Linked DNA regions of Homo sapiens: region 1 is linked to region 2. The links come from fine-mapping of genetic effects on gene expression. Tissue or cell type: whole blood. Region 2 holds a variant in brackets; the other region holds the start of a gene. All regions are shown on one strand. Distances are between the middles of the regions. Region 1 holds the start of SDC2 (syndecan 2). Region 2 overlaps SDC2 (syndecan 2).

Region 1 (9,549 bases), 31 kb after region 2:
TGCAGGAAGAGACCAATGGCCAGGCATAGTGGCTCACGTCTATAATCCCAGCACTTTGGGTGGCCGAGGCGGTGGATCAGCTGAGGTCAGGAGTTGGAGACCAGCCTGGCCAACACGTTGAAACCCCATCCCTACTAAAAATACAAAATTTAGCCAGGTGCAGTGGCATGTGCCTGTAGTCCCAGCTACTCGGGAGGCTGAGGCAGGAGAATCGCTTGAACCTGGGAGGTGGTGGTTGCAGTGAGGTGGCTGCAGTGAGGTGGTGGTTGCAGAGTGCCATTGTACTCCAGCCTGGGTGACAGAGTGAGACTCCATCTCAAGAGGAAAAAAAAAAAAGATTAGCGCTGCAGGAAGGGACCACATTTCCAAACCCCGACTTCTTTGCAGTGCTGAGCTCAGGTCAGGAGCTGGGTAAACACCTGTTGGTGCTGCATCTTTAAGTGCAGGTTCCCATGGGCCAGGGCATTCTGGGGCCGGTTGGCACTCCTGAGGAAGTTCCACGCTGGCCACTGAAGGCATGAAAAAATGAACGGAAAGATCACTAGAATGCAAGCTCCAAGAAGGCAGGGGGATATCTGCCTGGTTTGCTCACTGCTTTACCTCAAGCACCTAGTAGGTATGAAATAAATATCTGCAGAATGAATGCACAGCTGGACTTAGAGGCAGACTGGACGTGGAAACCAACAAAGATGAATGAGTCCAGGGCTTCTTCAAGATTTAAATCCAAATGATTAGAATGAAAATGATAGTACTGTCACAGTTGACTAAAAAAGTTAAATAAGAGTAGATTGGTTTTAGCAAAGATTCTTCTTCATTACTTCTGGCTTTTCTCTAAGACTTTATTTTGGCCTCTAGTCCACGAAAAGAATTCAGTGGTTTGGAGATTCTGCAATGCACCCTTCTGCCTTGGGAAGAAGAAAAGGATGGGCAAAATCTTTTAGTTTGATTTTTGGCAATGGAAGAAGGACAATCTAGTGAGAATCTAAACCCAGATGGCATTCCTCACAGGACAACTGGATCCCCACCAGCAGGTATGCCAACAGCACAGTGGCTTGACTGGACTTGCTATAAACCTTAATGACAGGGCTGGTGGGGCTCTGTGTGACTGGGTCAGCTTCAGGGGCCTTGCCAACCTAAGGAGACTCCAAGCCACCTCTAGCTGGCCAGTCAGGTCTCTGGGGGCTTTTGGAGACTTGAAAACTAGTTCCACCCAGGGAACAAACCAGTTCACCTTTTGAAATCCTTTCCAAACTAATGATTATCCAAGGCGCCATTTAAGTGATCATATTACACAGGGTAGGCTACCCCTCGAAGGGTGGTTACCATCAAAACTAGACATATCAGGTCCTAAAAGCAGAAGCTGAAGGGCATGCTCAAATTGCTTCTCAGACATCCATTTTCTGCAAGCCTGATCTTTCAAGATCTTTCCTTCTTAAATGACATCCTCCTTCTGCTAATACCCAACTAAGAGAGAAAGAGCCCTTGTTTTTATAAAATTCCCTAGCAAAAGCAATTTGTTTCACTCATAAAACAGCCAAACTATATTTTCTAAAGAACTGCAAAGTTACATGATTTCGATTTTAGTTACCCTTCTAATGCAAACTTTCCAGAGCCTGCCTTTCATAATACACCGAGAGATAATGCATGGGCCCAAATGACTTGACAGTTTCTTTTAATTTACAGACATCTAAGAATGTTTATAAAATTCCTCTAGTTCAAAACACTTCCTTTTCTTAAACATATTTCCAGTTCAAATTATGTGTTTATAGCAGTCTGCAATATATTATTTCTAAAGATAAACAGTCATGTACAAAATGGACAGAAAACCAGCAGCATATCACTACTGCCACACTCAGTCAGATTTTCCCCTTGCCTGGTGCTCCGCAGCCAAAGTCCTAACCTGCCAGTGGAAAGTATGAATGGATCACTAGGAACAGGCTTTCCCAGCTGCCTCCAGGATCCATAAAGGAACAGCTACCAGTTCCTTTTCATAGGCAGTTTTGAGCCTTAGTTCCTGAGAACCTCTTTTTTACCCCCAGAGCTAAGTATAAAACTTAAGAATTCACTAACTGTAGGCAGTTTTCCTTTCTTCCTTTAAAGGGAGACTTTAAACCCAAATCACTACTTCTAAATCCCAGGAAACAGTTGCAGTTTTCAAATTAAAATGCAAAGTCCTGGAAATAATATTCTGTAATTGCTAATTTTTTTTTAAATTCAGTCTTTTGACTTCATTTATATTTTTGCTGCTATACATGAAACAAACGGAGACTGAAAAGTAATTTAAATGGACTGTTAGCCATTCTGGGCCTTGAAACAGCTTCTATTTAGAAAGACTGACTCACTGCCTAACAAAGATTCTCTGCTAGTCTCTAAGTTGACATTTTATAAATATCTAATCACCCTTTTTGGATGATTTTCCAATTACTGAAAACAGTGTCTATCACAATGAAGCAGTTCACTCGGAAAGCATCCAGTTCTGGTTCAAATTGAGAAATATTAGAACCCCAAAGATACACAGTTCAGGGGAAAGCTGTCACCGGGGAGGACAGGTATATAGTTCGGCCAAAAAACTTCCTTAAGGAGCACTGGTAGATTTATGCAAAAACCCAGAGGAGCAGAAGACAGAAACATTCTTTCTCCAGAATCCCAAAACAGTAACATTTCCTAGCAAATCCATGAATAAGACTCAGCAAAAAAAAAGGGCCTCCTTAACCATGTGCAGTTTTTTAGGCAGGCTCTTGAAATTTATTAGATGAAGTCCCTTTGCCCTGTTTTGCAACAAGAGGAGCAACAACGCTCATCTGAAATAAACAAGAGAACTGCTGCCTTTTGGTGTACAAAGAGCCAAAGTTCATCCTAACTGGCTGGGAGATAACTAATACCAACGGATTAAACCATCATTTGCCAAAGGGAAACACTGATAAGGCTGGGAGTTCTATTTTACAACCTGAGCACCCAAAATACTCATGTAGTCTGTACAGTTTCCAATTCTACATGCTCTCCAACCACAAAGAACGTATGGGGATCTGCTAGCACACACAGAGGCTCCCACACTGATTAAAAATGTCCATCTGCCGCTCGATGCCAAAGAGGTTTCCCAGTCCTAAATTAGCCTCAGCACAAAAAAGGGGGGGAGGGAGACTCAAACTCATAAAACTACCTAAAAGACCTTAAGATGATATAATTTGTCTTTGAAAAGACCATTCAATTAATTAGAAATTGACACGTTATTAAATGGCAAAGGGAGAGGACGTGGGGAACCAGAAGGGCCAGAAACAGCCGCACTCCCTGAGACCCCAGAGGGCACTGAGGCTGCAGACGAAATCTGGGGTGCTCAAGCTTCCACCTGGCCCGACAGAGCTCCTGGCGCCCAGGTGGAGGCAGCTGCGGACGAGAGGAGGCCAAGGAGGCAGTTCCCTTTAGAGGGCGCTCATTGGGCGACGTGGGGAAACAAGCTCCAGCCCCCGAAGCGCGACCAAAAGGAGAAATCAAGTTCCCACCGCCAGGGCGGGGGAGGGAAGCTGGGTGCCGGCAGGCGCTCCGCCGGAGACGAGACTCCTCCCGGCCCCAGAAGCGCCCCGCCAGGGCCAGAGAGGGCGAGCGTGGCGGGAGGGAAGCCTCTGTCCCCCAGCGGCCAGGCGACCCGAAGCCGAGCGCCGTGTCACACGTACCCCGCCTCGCCCTGCTTGCGGCACTCCCGTGTAACTCCTATGAAAATGTCCTCCCGTCCCTGACGCCCCGCGGTGCAACCTCCACCCCTCAACGAGGAGGGGGTCGCCGCAGGACTGGGAATCCAGTGGCCGGCGTCCCAGCATTTTCGGACGCGTTCCGTGCCTCCCCCAGTATCCCCTTGAGGGATCGCCTACTGCGATTCCACGTAGTGTCGGTTACCTCGCCCTAGCCGCAGGGAGCATCAAACAAAAGAACTTTTGCAAACTTTTCTCTCTGGACACTCGCGGGTCTCTTAAATCTGGCCCCCATCTCCCCAGAACTTGCATGCAGTCAAACAGGAAAGCTGGCGCGGGGGGGATGGTGTGCGGAGGAAGGGACCCCGAAGTTTCCAGGTCATCCCTGGTCTCGAGGAGCGCGCGGAGTGGAGCCGTTCCCTCGCGGGCCCGACCCAGGCTCCCCCCTCCTGCCACCCTTTCCCCTCCGTCCTTCCCAGACCACGCAGCAAGACCCGCCGAGGGCGAAGAAGTTGGGAGTGACTTCAGGGGCCTCTGCGGCTAGACCAAACCGCAATTCTCGGTGCCCCCATTCCCGCGGACCGCGGGGTAACGCCAGCGAGCAGCGCTTTTCTGAGGAAGGGAAGAGGGGGAAAGGGTGACCGGACGAGCGCATTTGTCCCAGCGGATCTCCGGTGTATACTTGGGGACTGGGGGTTCCCCAGGTGGCGCTCCCCTATTCCCTGCGGGCTCCTCTCGTAGCTTCAAACACCCTAAACGGCGCGCGCATCCTCCGCCTGGCCCACTCACCGACTCCGCCGACACGCAGGCCACCAAGCCCAAGGTGAGCAGGATCCACGCGCGCCGCATATTCCCCAGGGACCGGCTGCTCCCAGCCGCTGCTTGCAACCAGGGCAAAACGAAGCCTCCTGCCCAGCGCTCGGCGCAGCCCGCGCACACGAATCCGGAGCAGAGTACCGCAGCGATTGCGGCTCAGGCTCGGGGACTCGGGCTCGGGGCTCGGGGGCGCTCGCTTCCTCCTCCTGCGCCTGCTCCCGCCGCCCGCAGCTGCGCCCCGGGAACGCGGCGCCCTCTCACTTGTTGGTTTCTGCACTCCCGACACGGAGTTGGTGCTCCGGGAAGGCTGCTCTCTGAAGCTCTTCTTGCTCTGCTGTGGTTTTGCTCCTCCGCGGACTCCTTTCCCGTGCCGAGGTTCAGTTTCTGGTTTTAAGGAATAAATTCGCTGGCTTGAAAGGGAGCTACGGCAGAAGTTTAGGGGCAGAGCGGCGGGAGCGCGCGATCCGCGCGGCTGGAGCTCCGGGGGTATCTGGAGAGCAGCGCGTCCAAGCGGGGCCACTGGCTCCGCGGCTGCGCCCCTCCTCCTCCCGCGCCGCGCCTCCCTCCCCGGGTCCTCCTCCTTCTCCTCCTCTTCTTTTCCTCTGGCTCCCTCCCTCCTGAGCCTGCTTCTCCGGGCTCCCCTGGGCGACTGGGGAGAGGAGGCGGCAGTGTGACTCCCAGATAAACCCGGGAGAAATTCCTACAGGATTACACGCCGATTGGCAGCTCCGAGGACCAGTGGGCGCCGCGGCTCCGCGCTGTGGCTGCGCCGGCTCTGCTCACCGGCAAGCCAGGGCTCCTGCGTTTTCTCAGTCCTTTTCTTCCTTTCTCTCCCCACTTTTCCTCTCTCCTCTATGCTCTTTTCTTCCCCGTTGTCTTTTCTCTTTCCCTTCTTCACTTTCCCTTTTCTAGAGAACAATTAGTGAAGAAACGAGAGACGTATGTAGCTTTTCTGCCTTGAGAATTCGACCAGTAGAAAGAAACTGCTTTGTGAGTTGAGGGAAAAAAAAAGTGTAAGATGCTTTCAAGCAATGTGAAGTGTTCATAAATCGCCAGTTCATGAAAATTGCATTTTAAAAGAGAAGATAATTAATGTAATAAATATATAGTGAGAGTGTTTCCCATTCTCCCAAATCCTTCCGCACCCCCAAAAAAGGGACATGGAGGAAGGATCCTGTAAACCCAAAGTGCAACAGTTTGAAAGCTCCTAACTTCATTAAGGGCTTAAATACCATTTCTCCCTCACACACAGTTTATGCCACTAAGGCTTTTTATAGGCTCCATTTTAGCAGATAGGTGTTAACGTTTGGAAGCTACAAATAGGGTAATTTGATGAGAAGTTGGATAGAGACCCTGAATAATAACAGATTTAAGATAACTTCAAAGAAAAGAGGGATAAAGTAATTCTTAGTTTGAAGAAAATAATGAACATGTATTTCCTAAATGGAAGTAGCTGACATGAAATATTTTGTTACAATGTCTGTGGCATATTATAGAACATGGCAAATGCGTATTCCCTTCCAGTTTCTTTTTCTTACTGTCACAAATTTTACACACAAATCCCTTGCAGTTCGTGCCATCATTTTTCTCTCTGACTTATAGAGTAAATGAATTATGACGCCATTCTGCTCCTGGAATGCCCACTACAGGAAACCAGAGACTTTTCTGTCTGTTCACCATTGTATTCTCATTCCTGGTACATAAAGACACATGATAAATATTATCTTGAATAAATTTTGCTCTAAAGCTCAATTTATACCGTATAAGAGTTGTGAGCCTTTAAAATACACCAATGTAGATATATAGATATGAGGCCATGGTAATTTTTCAACTCAGTATTAGAATAAAATACAGTCATACCCTCAGTGAGAATTAAATGTCTTAGTAACCTATTACTGTAATAAATCTCAAAGAAAGAAATTTAACTGGAGAATTACAACTCAAACTTGGAGACACTTATTCCTTTGGTTTTGTGTGCCAGCTACCAAACCTACAAATGCTCATGAGCAAGTCTAAGGCATTGGCCAACAAAAAGGTAATATGGAGAAATAGAAGAGTAGGCAAAGGAGAAAGAAGAAAAAGAGCAATAGGCCAGAAGTTGTAACATCAGATGATGCTTCTGATTCCACAGACACTGTAGCTGGCATCTGTGCCAATGTGGGCTCCACTTAGCTTTTGAAAGAATGAACCACAGCCTTTTTTTTTTTTTTTTTTTTTTTTGAGACAGGGTCTCATTCTTGCCCAGGCTGGAGTGCAGTGGCCTGCACTGTAGCCTCTACCTCTCAGGCTCAAGCAGTCCTCCCACCTCAGCTTACCAAGTAGCTGGGACTACAGGCACAGGCCACCACACCAGCTAATTTTTGTGTTTTTTATAGAGACAGGGTTTTCCATTGTTGCCCAGGCTGGTCTCAAACTCTTGGGCTCAAGTGATCTGCCTGCCTCAGCCTCCCAAAGTCCTGGGATTAGACACGTGAGCCACCAGCCTAGTGCCCTTATTTTTAAGATGGAGTCTGTGGGTTGAAGAGGTTCATGAGATGGGGAGACTTCTTAAAAAGGCCTCCAAAGGAAAAGCAGCAATGCAAAATACATGCAAAGAGCCATAAAATACCAGCTCTGTCCTCATAAGAGGCCTCGTCTACTCGCCAGCCTTCAGGCAAGGCCACACCTCCATTGTCCCCAACAGTTAAGTATTCATCAAATAAATTGGAATTCCAGTAAAACAGGAAGTGCACTCCACTGATTTGCTGGTTCTCACAGTTATTGCTGTTTACTGGGGCACCCATGTAACAAGAAGCGTGGTGAATGCTCTCTGATTCAGCTTGGGCAGACAGTGATAAAAAATGAATAAGTGGATACACGTGTTGAAGGGATATTATCTGTTTGCTGCCCTGAAGGCACACCCCAAGGCTCTTGGTGTTGATGAGATGCTCAGTGACTTGTTTCTTTAAAGATGATAAATACTCCATTGAGAGTATATATAATAAGGGAATTGGTACCATTTTGAGTGACACAATATTAAGGAGATGAAAACAAATATTCAAGATCTTGTGTTCAGATTTATTAACAGCTGTGGCAAGAAGGATAATCTGACAGTATAAAAAGCACTTACACAAGAGCTGGCTACAAAGAGGTCACCCATGCTGAGTGGGGATGGGGACAGAAGTCAGGGGAGGTCCGCTGGTATTAGTCAGGATTTGTCTAAATTCGCAAACGATGTAGGCCTGTTTGTGTGTTTTGCTAATTGGAAATGTTTAAAAAACTGATGGGGACTAAAATTTGGCAGAATTTTGTGTAGTATATCTAATTCACTAAGTATAGCTTGTGACTAGAACCAAAGGTTCTTTGCAAATATACTTCAAGTCCTCAGGTTTTGAGGGCTATGCTTTGAGGGGCACAGCTTAACCAATCACTTCCCAAATAGCTTCATTGATTGCTAAAAGAATAATTACCACACTTCAAGAGTCTCAGGAGAAAATATTAAAAATAAACAACATAGAGATTAAGATGCAAACATGTAAAAACAAATAAAAAATAAAGAGAACCAGACAAGTGAAAAAATAGAAATGAAAGCTACTAAAGACAGTTTTTAACCTAAACTGACACATCGGACTCTGTCACTACGGTAACAAATGATACCACATTACAACCGTGGATAAACAGGTGTTCTGTCCTGAGGTGAGTTGTCAGAGTAGGGGATAGCGGAAAAAAAAGATGCCATTCTGTTGTTCTCGGTTGTTCTTCCACTTGGCACCCCCTGGACTGTTACCAGGAGTCCAGGCTAGAAATCAATTTGGTAGGATTGGCTCTTATGAAATTCACTTGAAAGATGATAGAAGCTGAGAGGAATAGGATATCCATCCAGCCAACCATTAATGAGCCATCGCTAATACTGGCAAGTGAGCTGAGGCCATGACCAAAATCTACAGGCAATCCAAAAAAATCTATTTTCAGGCCTGGCGCGGTGGCTCACACCTGTAATCCTAGCACTTTGGGAGGCCGAGGCAGGCAGATTGCCTGAGCTCAGAAGTTCAAGACCAGCCTGGGCAACACGGTGAAACCCCGTCTTTACTAAGAACAACACAACAAAAATTAGCCAGGTGTGATGGCGGGCACCTGTAGTCGCAGCTACTTGGGAGGCTGAGGCAGGAGAATTGCTTGAACCCGGGAGGTAGAAGTTGCAGTGAGCCGAGATCATGCCACCGTACTCCAGCCTGGGCAACAGAGCGAGACTCTGTCTCCAAAAAAAAAAAAAAAAAGTCTATTTTCAGCCTCAAACTTTCCACTGTTCTCTTTATTCACCTCCATCAACCCCTTCCCAGAGAAGTTGGCTGATTTGAGTTTCATAAAATGATATGGTGCTAATGTTGAACAAAATTGTTACAGTTTTGGATAGGAGGACACAGGAAAATCAAGGAAGTGTATAATACATAAAATAAGACAGGAGATAAAACAGTTACTTCTGTTTTTCTTTTTCTTTTTTTTCTTTTTTTCTTTTTTTAGAGACGAGGGCTCACTATATTGCCCAGGCTGGCATCGAACTCCTAGACTCAAGTGATCCTCCCCCTTGGCCTCCGAAGGGTCTGAGATTACAGGTGTGAGCCATCACACTTGGCCCTTCATGTCAGTTTTTCTAACAGTGTGGTATGGTTCTTTAAAGGCTGGCAAAATTTGACATTCAGTCAACAAATATGTATGGATCACCTGCTGCAACTCAGGTACTCACTGGGTAGGCACATGAATTTTCTTGAACCTTGTTAGAGTTAATACATTTTTAAACTAAGAGTTGTTCTCAAGTCATGAATCTGTGACTAAAGTACATGATGAATTTCATTCTAAAATCAGATAAAGTTTAAAGAAAACATTATTTATGGACTAAAATACATATCCAAAGAGCCATATTTGAATGTTATAGATTTGGATGTATGAATCCAGGAAGGTACCACAGAGGTATCTTCAAGTTATTTTGCATTGCATTTGTATATATCCAGTTGAACAGGAAAGTCTAACCTTGATTAATTTTATGTAAAATGGTACTATTTTTTAAATT
Region 2 (9,549 bases):
TTTGTTAGATTCTTAACTCTGACAGCCATAGCCGTCACTCGTACTCATGGAGTTTTTAAATGTAAAAATGGGTACAGGTTGGGATTTGTTTTAAATAACTTTTCTTATTTAAATTTAACAAATTCTTAACAGTAAATTTGAATGAGGCGGAATATTATAAATAAGCAAATAAAAATTACCTGTAAGTCAATCACCAGAGATAATTACTAATAACATTTTGATGTGTTTTCTTCCATTCATTTTTTAACATACCTATTGAATATTGACTGGGAAGGACGAATGGTTCACTGTGATGTCCAAAATTATCTCCTCTTCCATGTAGCTCTCACCTCTTGAATTTAAAAGTAAGACAACTCATTATCTAAGAGTGCATTGAGAGTGATTTGTGGTACTATTTTCCTTGGGAAAAACAAATGGCTGCCCTTGGGTGGAAGTAACTGACCTAGGGCCTCCACCCCAGCTCTGTCCAGCTGTCTTTAGGGCCGAGGGGCATCAGAATTTTGGCACAGCTGTGCCGGGGCATCTCAGCTGGGAAACTGATCTAACCCAACCCTCCCATTTCACAGATGAAGACACTGAGACCAAGAGAGGTAAAGTAGCCTGTTCAAAGTCACACTATGAATTAAAATTTGAGCACTTTAGAAACTGAAGCCCTATATGACTTCTCTGTTACATAAGATGCCTCATTATGGTCTTCTTCTGGGATATTAAGGATCATAAATCCCCTTCACAGGGCATATTTTTCCAGTTTTTCTCTCTGCCATTTTTTATATGGAGAACTGTATGATTAACAATAGTAAATTACAGACATATAATTTATAATTTTGGACAGCCCAAAGACTAAAAGGTTGTTTAAAATCAAACAAAGATTAAAAAACAACATTATGAAACTAAAATTAGAAAGACTATTTTTATTTTGAAATAATTAACTCTAGTCTTTAAATAGTAAGTTTCCCCAGTATATGTAAAAACCAAACCATTTAAAAAATTTTTTCTTTGGAATTTATTTTAACATTTTTCCTTTTAGAAAGTGTTGAAAATCTAACCATATTGTTATGAGCACTGAGTATTTGCATTTTCTAAATCTTTCTTAATTTTATGAGAGGACAATGAATACCGTGTGTTTTTTCTTTTGACATTTTTCTGTTCTAGTGATCATTATTAGTTATTTGTAATTCTTCAGTAAAATGAATACTGTTATGTACTTAAGTTGAGCAATCACTTAGAGTTTTTGGCTTTTAGGCTTAAAAAAAATCCTCTTTCTCAGAGATCAAATTTTCTCCACATTTTTTTTCTCGCTTAGAGCTTTAAATATATATACTTAAATCCAATCCGTATGAAAGATATTTTGGTGTGTCACCAAAGCAAAGATATAAATAGATTTTTTAAAATACCCAATTTCACAACCCCCTTCATCAAATAATCTGTTCCTTCCCCAACGACTTATAATTAAGTTATTCCATACGCTAAAAAAAGTTTTGAAAAGTGCTATTTTGTTGGATTATTTGCATGTTTTTATGCCCACATCATCATCTTTTATCAGCACTTTATAATGTGTTTTAATATTTGGTAGTAGAAGTTTCTGCTTCATTTTTCTATTATAAATATATCACACATGTAGATATATGATATAATGTAATATACATAGTCTTCCAAATGAACTATAGAATCAGTTAAAAAACAGGCTTTTTGTTTAATTGATTTTTGAAAACTATATGCGCAGATCCCTTAATACCTCAATTTTCTCTGGTAACTTAACATTAATTCTTGCACTCCATTCCAAACATTCAGTGCCTTTTAAATGCACCCTACAGATCCATCCCAAATATGTTGATTCCCAGTTCATCTGAAGACCCAACTCAAAGCAGCTTGGTTTTAAGACTCAACAAGTCTAACTCGGACTGGTAGGTTATGAGACCCCCTTGAACAGCCTGCACGAAGAGGCCCTGGGACTTGCCACTTACAGAGCACGCAGGACCAGATCACGTAGGGTTCTGTGTGCCACAGCAGTACGGCACTGGGGAGCCACTGACGGGCATGTAAGTAGGAGAATAACATGATCATATTTCTGTTTTAGGGGCAGAGAGAGAGAGAACTGTGCAAGTGGAAGCTAGATCAGTGTCATGCACCCACCAGAGGCAGGGAGAGGATTAGGAGTCTCCTATGATGTCTGTCTTACAAGAGCAGTGATAAGGGCAGGGGTGATAGAACAAAGAATGATTCAAGTGGGATTTATGTTATTGCAGTGTTTCCCCTATAGCAAAATAGGGTGCATTCAAACAGTCCCAAGGCAGAAATAATGAAGCTCCCAAACCTGTCCCTAAGCACGGTCTCTCTTCCCACCACGTCAATAGGCAGAACGTGCCTGCCCTCTTCCCCCTGTGGAGTGCAGTATTTACTAAGCACCTACTATGGATAGGTCAGGCACCATGCTAGCTGCTGAAATAAATCCTGGATGGGTCAATGCCAAAAATTAGCAGGAGACATGGAGAATGAAGAATATGACTCTGACATCCAAAAAGAGAGCCAAGTATTGGGAACAAGAGTCACCCAGACATTGGGAACAGACTGTTGTACAGAGCTACCACCTCCCTAGAGGCTACTTACCTGTCTGCTCCAAACCAGTGGCCAGCCTCCGTAACTCCCCTGCAGGTCCGAGCCTCCCCTGCACCAGAAAACAGTACCACTGGCCTTGTTCTACCAATGGATCGTCAGGGGAAAATCAGGAGCCCTGGCCACAGCTACACAGGGGTCAACACACAATCCAAGTTTTAGTTCCCTGACTTAACCCTTCAACGCTTGGTCTTTGAGGAGTACACCAAGTATTTATGAAGGCCCTTAAAAACTGTCCAAAAAAAAAAACCAAAGGCCTCTTTTCACTTTTACTAGCTTGATTCTTTAATTTTCACCCAATTCCTTCCTCCTCAACAGTGGTTTCCATAGTTCTCTGGGTGCAACCTGCGTTGGCCTTCCTGCAATCTGGAAAAGATCTTCTGTCTCCCTGCCTCCTTGAAAATAGGCAGACATTTGATCCACTTTTTTAAACTTCAAGGAGGGAGAGAAGAAGTTTCTGTAACTATAAAATATTTGGTCCCTCCACTTACTGGAAATATGCCACATAACAAGAAACATGAAACAAACAATCGTATAACAACTGGGTGGTTTTTGCAACCGCTTTAAGGAGATCAGCTTGGTCCTTTTTCCTATGTAAAAGTATTTGTGATGCTTCATTACAACAAAACTTCAAGTATTAGCTTTATAGAGGCCTATTTAAATTCAGAATCACAAAAAATCAGTACATATTCATAGAATTCTAACTTCCTTATGCCCATAACAAACATAGGTGCAAAGCCACTTTGGGGAGGCCCACAGGACCGAAATATCAGGAAAAGAACCACAAGGCTAAAACATACCTGGCCCTGCACCATGCCTGGCCCGCACATCCAAAAGCCATGACTAACTCTACCATTTGACGGTTAAACTTGAAGCCGTATGCTTAGCTTTGATAAGCCTCCATTCAAGGTCTCTGGGACTGACTTTGTTCATTTTTGAAACAGGTCAATGATGCCTACCCCACAAGGTTCCTGTGCGGCCCCACCCTGACAATGTGTGGAAAGTACTCTGTAAATAATGTCGTCCCAGACCCTTTTCCGGAGGCTTTCATTATCTTAGTTTTCTTCCTGAAACCGCCCCTTTCAACTACATGAATTTATGGTCTTATTCTGATTTTATATGTGGAGAAACTGAGACCCAAGCAGTATTTTTTCCAGGAAAAGAAAACTCCAACAAATTAAGAGATGCCCTCGGAGATCAATAAAGACTTGGGAATGCAGTTTGCCAGTAAGGTAACATCTTGGACAAGTCCTTTAACCTTTCCGAGCACCAGTCTGAGTTCAACTCACCAGCCTGGAGGGTAGACAAGCTGAAGAAGGTTTTGTCACCAGAGAGCTCTAAAGGAGATGGCAAACACTGGAGGAATTGGACCTCATATAAAGCAGCAAGGGCAAGAACCTTCTCCATGCCCCCAAGCAACGCACAAAGTAAGCCCAGGCAGGATGGGGTGCAGCCTCACTCTAATGGGAAGGGGGCTCTGATAAGGAACTTGTCCAGTGACCTCAGCATGGCACTCCAGTGCCACTGGAAAACAAGGCCTGCAGGTGGAAGTGAGCACAGGTGGGAGGCAGCTGTTAAAAGAGGAGCAGAAAGGAGACTACAGCAGCACCAAATGGGGTGGCTTCCCAAGGCCAAGCACAGAAGCTTCTCTAGGACAGCCAGGATCAAGACAGTGCCAGTTCCTGCCCTAAGTGATGTCACACATCAACCGGAAGCCTCATCACAGAGTGGGAACGGACAGCCTTGAACATTTCAAGAACACTTGGGCACAGGCCGAAATCACACCTGAGGTTTGCATGCAGAAGAGAGGGAGAGCAGGGCTTCCAATCATTCCTCTGGAATGAGCTGAAAGTACAGACTACGATTTTACATTATTGTGACCCAATTATTCCAGTATCTTCATAGCTCATATGGAGATCCATGTAACCCGACAAATAATGGCCAAAGTCTTGTCTCACTCAAACTGGTTCCACAAAAAACTGCAACTGATAAACCCTCAAACCCCACATCTTCCCAAGATTGAGCAGTAAACCACACAAAAATATAAATAGGAACCACCCACTAAAGTGCACAAATGATACTATATTAGGTCTCATTGAACAGCCCAATGAAGCCTGCAGTATTTATTAGGTGGAACCACAGCAGTGCTCTGACTTGTATTGGAAAGGAGAAAAAAGGAGGA[G/A]GAATGATTTCTAAATATGACTTCAGCATGTTGATAATAAGCTTTCCGGCACTGGTTCATTACGCCAGCCACCCTGCAATCATTAACCCCAGGTAGCAGTGGGGGAGCTAGGACAAAGAAACCCACTGCTTGCCCAAGGAGATTTCCTCATGCTGCCTTCAACAACAACTTTTAGGAAGTCATAACTCCCCCTTCTGAAACCAGAGGAGTTGATACCCTAAACTGGAATATATAACTGAAATTAGTTCTGACCGGTCTTAATTAAATCTTTGTAGCCAGTTGTCAGTGTGCTTGAGATTTTTCAAAATCTCTCTCTCACATGCTCAACAGATGTGGGTGGTAATCAAAGCCAAGCTGATCGGAGCTGCACAGACAGCGAGCAGCAGCTCCCCCAAACGAAAGGTCAGCCATGATAATGACATCCCCAGAGTGATGTATGTGCACGTTAAGAAGTTAAATCTCATGAAAAGAATGTCCAATAAAGCCATCAATTTTATTTTAGGTTCATCTGGCTGCAATTTCTGCCTACAGTCATCTCACTCCAGGAAAAGTCAGCACCGTGCAGGCACCTGGATTCACTTCGGGGTCTCTGGTATATGAACTATGACATTCCACACATAGTTTCCCAACGCAAGTACTGAAATATCTGTGCCCTACTTCTTAGCTCACTGTCTGTAAAACATTCCTTGCCCTTTGATGTGAAAGAAAAATACTCCACTTTACAACATTATCCTGGACTGGACTTCTTTTTTGAAAGAAGCCTAAAACAACACCACCATTGTGGCCACCCTGAGTGTCTGTGGCAACAACCAGAGAAGAAATAATCTTAAAGTTACCAACACGTTGAGCAACTTTACACCTACCTAAATCCTACTCCCCTGTATGATATTTTAAGGGAAAAGAAATCATTAGCAGAATTTCCCACAATTATCTTTGAAAAAAAATCCGCGTCTTTTTTTGGATGGATTCTTGTACCAAATACTTAAGCATTCCTCTGTCTTTAAAGCACCAGGGTAATCTGTTATTAAATGCACGTTTAAACCAACGTTTTATAACCTTGCTGCTGTTTTCAATGAGTCTCCGCCTCTTCCTACCAGGCATTTTGGGCTATAATAGCAGTCCCACAGCCACCTCCTACTGAATAATTATAATAGTGGGCCAATTAAACTAATCACCTTTCCACATATTTTTATCCGGCTTACAGATGTAAATCTCCCCCAGAATGCCGAGAATGAAAGGTTCCTCCCCAATAGCACCTAGGACTCCAAGAGTTACCCCTGGCAGAGATCCCATCCATTAGGGGCAACCTTAATGCTCAACCAAAACTAGTAAGTAACACATTCAAATATGCGATATTCATATATATTCACCACACACTCATCTTTCCTCTTCCAAGAAATCTAAAGGATTCATGAACTACTTCCACAGTACAAAAGTTTAACTTCGTGGTTTAGCTTAAGCAGCAAAACACCACCAAATCCTCTAAAAAGCAATTACCAAGAATGACAGTGCTGAACAGTGCGGGATTTTAGATGCTCAGCAATCCACTGTATGCATTTTTTGAAGGAAAAAAGATTTTAAAGAAAGATTTCAAATTCAGAGGTTTATCACTGTTGCATGAACCATTTACTATGGAGCAACTAACTGAATTAATAACTCCTCGGAGAAATTTTTCTTGATGACTCACACAGAATCTTCTGGCTCTGAAAGGGAGGATACGTTTCCATCCAAACGCCAAGTAACAAGCAGTGAAAAGGAAAAATTCCAACCCTAGGCAAAAGCAGCAGGTGGGAAATACACTCATTTGTATAAAGCTAATCCAGAAATAGCCATTTCCCCTTTCTAGATAAAGCCACAACCTGAGGAATGTTACTTCTTCTGGTCAGGGTGACAATTTGGAAGCAGTTCATGGACCAGATTTATTTTACACCTTACATCCTGAAACTGCTCTATCTTGTTCTCTAAAAATCCAATTATATAACTTAATGACTATTTCAAATATGGATCATAGATCCTTAAGCTATTTCCCTTACCTTAGTAGTTCAGTGATTTTCCCCAATAGTTTTATAATACATCCCATAAACTAGAATAACTGTCTACAGAGAAAATCACTTTTAGTTGACTCCTCTGATATCAGCACAGTACAGAGACAGCTTTGAGAAAGTGTTTCTCGATAGGGTGAAGAGACACTGCAAGCAATTGGGGACAAAATGGAGGAAAGGATTAACCACCATTTCATACCTTCCTTCTTTTTCCGAAGTAGCCAAGACTATGTCTTTAGTGAAGAACAACAAAAATAATACACGGCGTTCCCTTCTGTTCTAACTTTTCTCCAGCCAGAGGAGAAAAAAAAAAAAATAGGTAACCACTTGAAAAATTCTCTTTCAGGCAATATGTACTTCAAAAGCTCATCCAACAATAAATAGACACAGGCATGTCCTGATTAGGTTACTAAATAAAAAGCACTTCCCAAGGCATAGCTCTAAGGCAAGACTTTTTTTCCTACTTGGGACCTCTTGTCCTAACATGCACTCCAAGCCTTCCTTTCCCCTTTATTTACAGCTATAGATATAACCAAAATCCCAGAAAAAGAATAAATGCAAACAAAGACATTCCACTATATCTCAATAGGGCATCCTAAATAAATAATTTTCACTTGAGTTTTGCAGAAAGGATGGTAGGACTACAGAAAAAGACACACACTCAGCTCACACTCAACCTTTAAAAATAAAGCAATTTAAAATCTCATAATTAAGAAGTATAAAAATACATCCCAAATGTACTTGGAATTTTAGTGAATTAGGCCATCCTGATTTTTCTCTTGGTTACTCAAAATGCTTTAGGTTGACAATGTTCAATAAGTACCCCCATATCAAACAAAACACGAACAGCTCAATCTTTTAATTGAGCAAAAAGAGAAGGCACACATGTTTTAGTGATACGCTTGGATTTAATGTGTTATTTCCTACAAGAAATTAGCTCCCCAACCTTTAAAAGGAAGAAAGCTGAGGATCTTGTTACAACCGCAAAGCAAGGAAAATGCTCAATACCCGACACAGATGTGAAATAAATAGCAACATATTACTCTCAAAGAACTCTAAATAGACATATTTTTTTGACAGAGTCTTTTGTTACCTGGACAGCCTTAGGCTCAAAGACCTCACACACTTTTCTTACAACACAGATAATGCGAGCCCACCTACCTTCTCCAGACTGGAGGCCATAAATCCTCCAAGGCTGCCCTGATCCAGACATCGCCATGGTTGAACAAAAGAGTTCATTCCATAAACATCCTTCCTTGTTTTCAGAGCAGTCTCCCTAGATCCGAGCTTTCCCTCCTAACACCTTCCCAGGACGCCTGTTCTGCCTTTATGAATCATACATGGTAGCTACTGGAATGATCTATTTACCTGTCACTTATTAAGACTTACACACTAATAAAATGTTATTTGAAAGAAAAATCTGAATATCCCTGGACAGTCTATAAGAAGTGATTAACACATAATTCAAAAATGCTTTTGGTTTCCTCTCAGCGCAGTTTTCAAAAATACACAACATATTATTTATACGAATGTGAAAATCATCCCATTAGGGATGTGGTGCTGCATGAAACAGCTTAGCTGGGAATGAAGACACCTGGACTTAAGTTTTGACTGATTCTCCTTGGGCAAGTCACCTAACTTCTCTGAGCCTCTGCTTCTTGATCAATAAAATGAAAGGGTCTTAAAAGGCACTTGCAGTTCCAAAATTCTACAATCCGTTTCCTTCCTAGATTGTTCTCTCAAATCCAGTCTCCCAGAGCTCCGCCTTCTTTTAACCTCCATATTGTTTTGGCTTTTGCCCCTGGGTGTCCAGGGGAAAAGTCCTTTGTTTAGAAGACAGCCCTGAGGTTCCCCCAGGGGCACAAGGGTTAATGCAGGTCTCAGGATGTGCATAATCAAACTCAGACAGCAGCTGCTGAGTTGCAGCTAATCCTTAGAGAACTGCATCAGACCTCCTCTTTCTCTCACAGTGAAATTGCCTGGCACCAGGCCTGTTCCGGCTGTTTGGACCTTATGTTTTCGGCACATTGCAAACAACATCTTCTTGTGGATTCAACTCTCAACACGCCAATGGGTTTCTCTGTTTTGCTTTTTCTAGCTAGCTCTCCAGAAGCAAATACTTAAAACATAAGCACACACCCTGTCCACAAGCTGAACATCACATATAAACAGCTTGGGAATGTGAGGAGAGGCTCTGGAAAGGAAAAGGCAGTAAGACTCCCTGTAAATGAATTATTACTGCTCCTCTAATCACTTTGACAATCAATACTTCAAGAAACAGTAAGAGTGAGTGAAGCAGCAGAAATCACCTTTAGAAACTGCTAAATGTATAGATCTCACGCTAATTTCTAATACTAATCTGGTGTTCCCATAAAGTCACCACCTTTCTCTACTTCAGTTCGATGGCCCTTGAAAGTGACAATTATACTGTGTTTTCTTGGAAATATAATGTGACTAACACCCTAGCTTTAGTAAAATGGATTCTATTTGTAGATTCAAGAGAGCTTTTTACAATATATACTTTTAAAAGTAAAAAGTTGTCACTACAGTTTCATTGGCTGGATTCTTATATCAGCTCTACCCAACAAAAGTCATCTTGTTCCAGGAAGTCCCGTGAGAAAGGCCAAGAAGGCATGTTATGAGAAATCATTTAGTTCCAGGTAACAACTATTTACTAAATTAGCCAAATTAGTGGGCAGCATAAATTATGAG

The links.
Region 1: SDC2 starts here. The variant in region 2 is fine-mapped to the expression of SDC2 in whole blood (TOPMed, PIP above 0.99).

Annotation. Positions count from the first base shown.
Region 1 is chr8:96,489,258-96,498,806 of GRCh38, reverse strand. It overlaps SDC2 (syndecan 2), which reads right to left and starts at 4,994. Exons shown (of 5, transcript NM_002998.4): 1 at 4,476-4,994. The coding sequence starts at 4,535.
Region 2 is chr8:96,519,975-96,529,523 of GRCh38, reverse strand. All of the region lies in intron 1 of SDC2 (syndecan 2), which reads right to left. Among named protein-coding and RNA genes, the nearest start is that of SDC2, 31 kb to the right of the region's middle. RefSeq lists an enhancer at 8,335-8,835 and a silencer at 8,849-9,143. The variant G/A (reference allele first, on the strand shown) is at 4,796.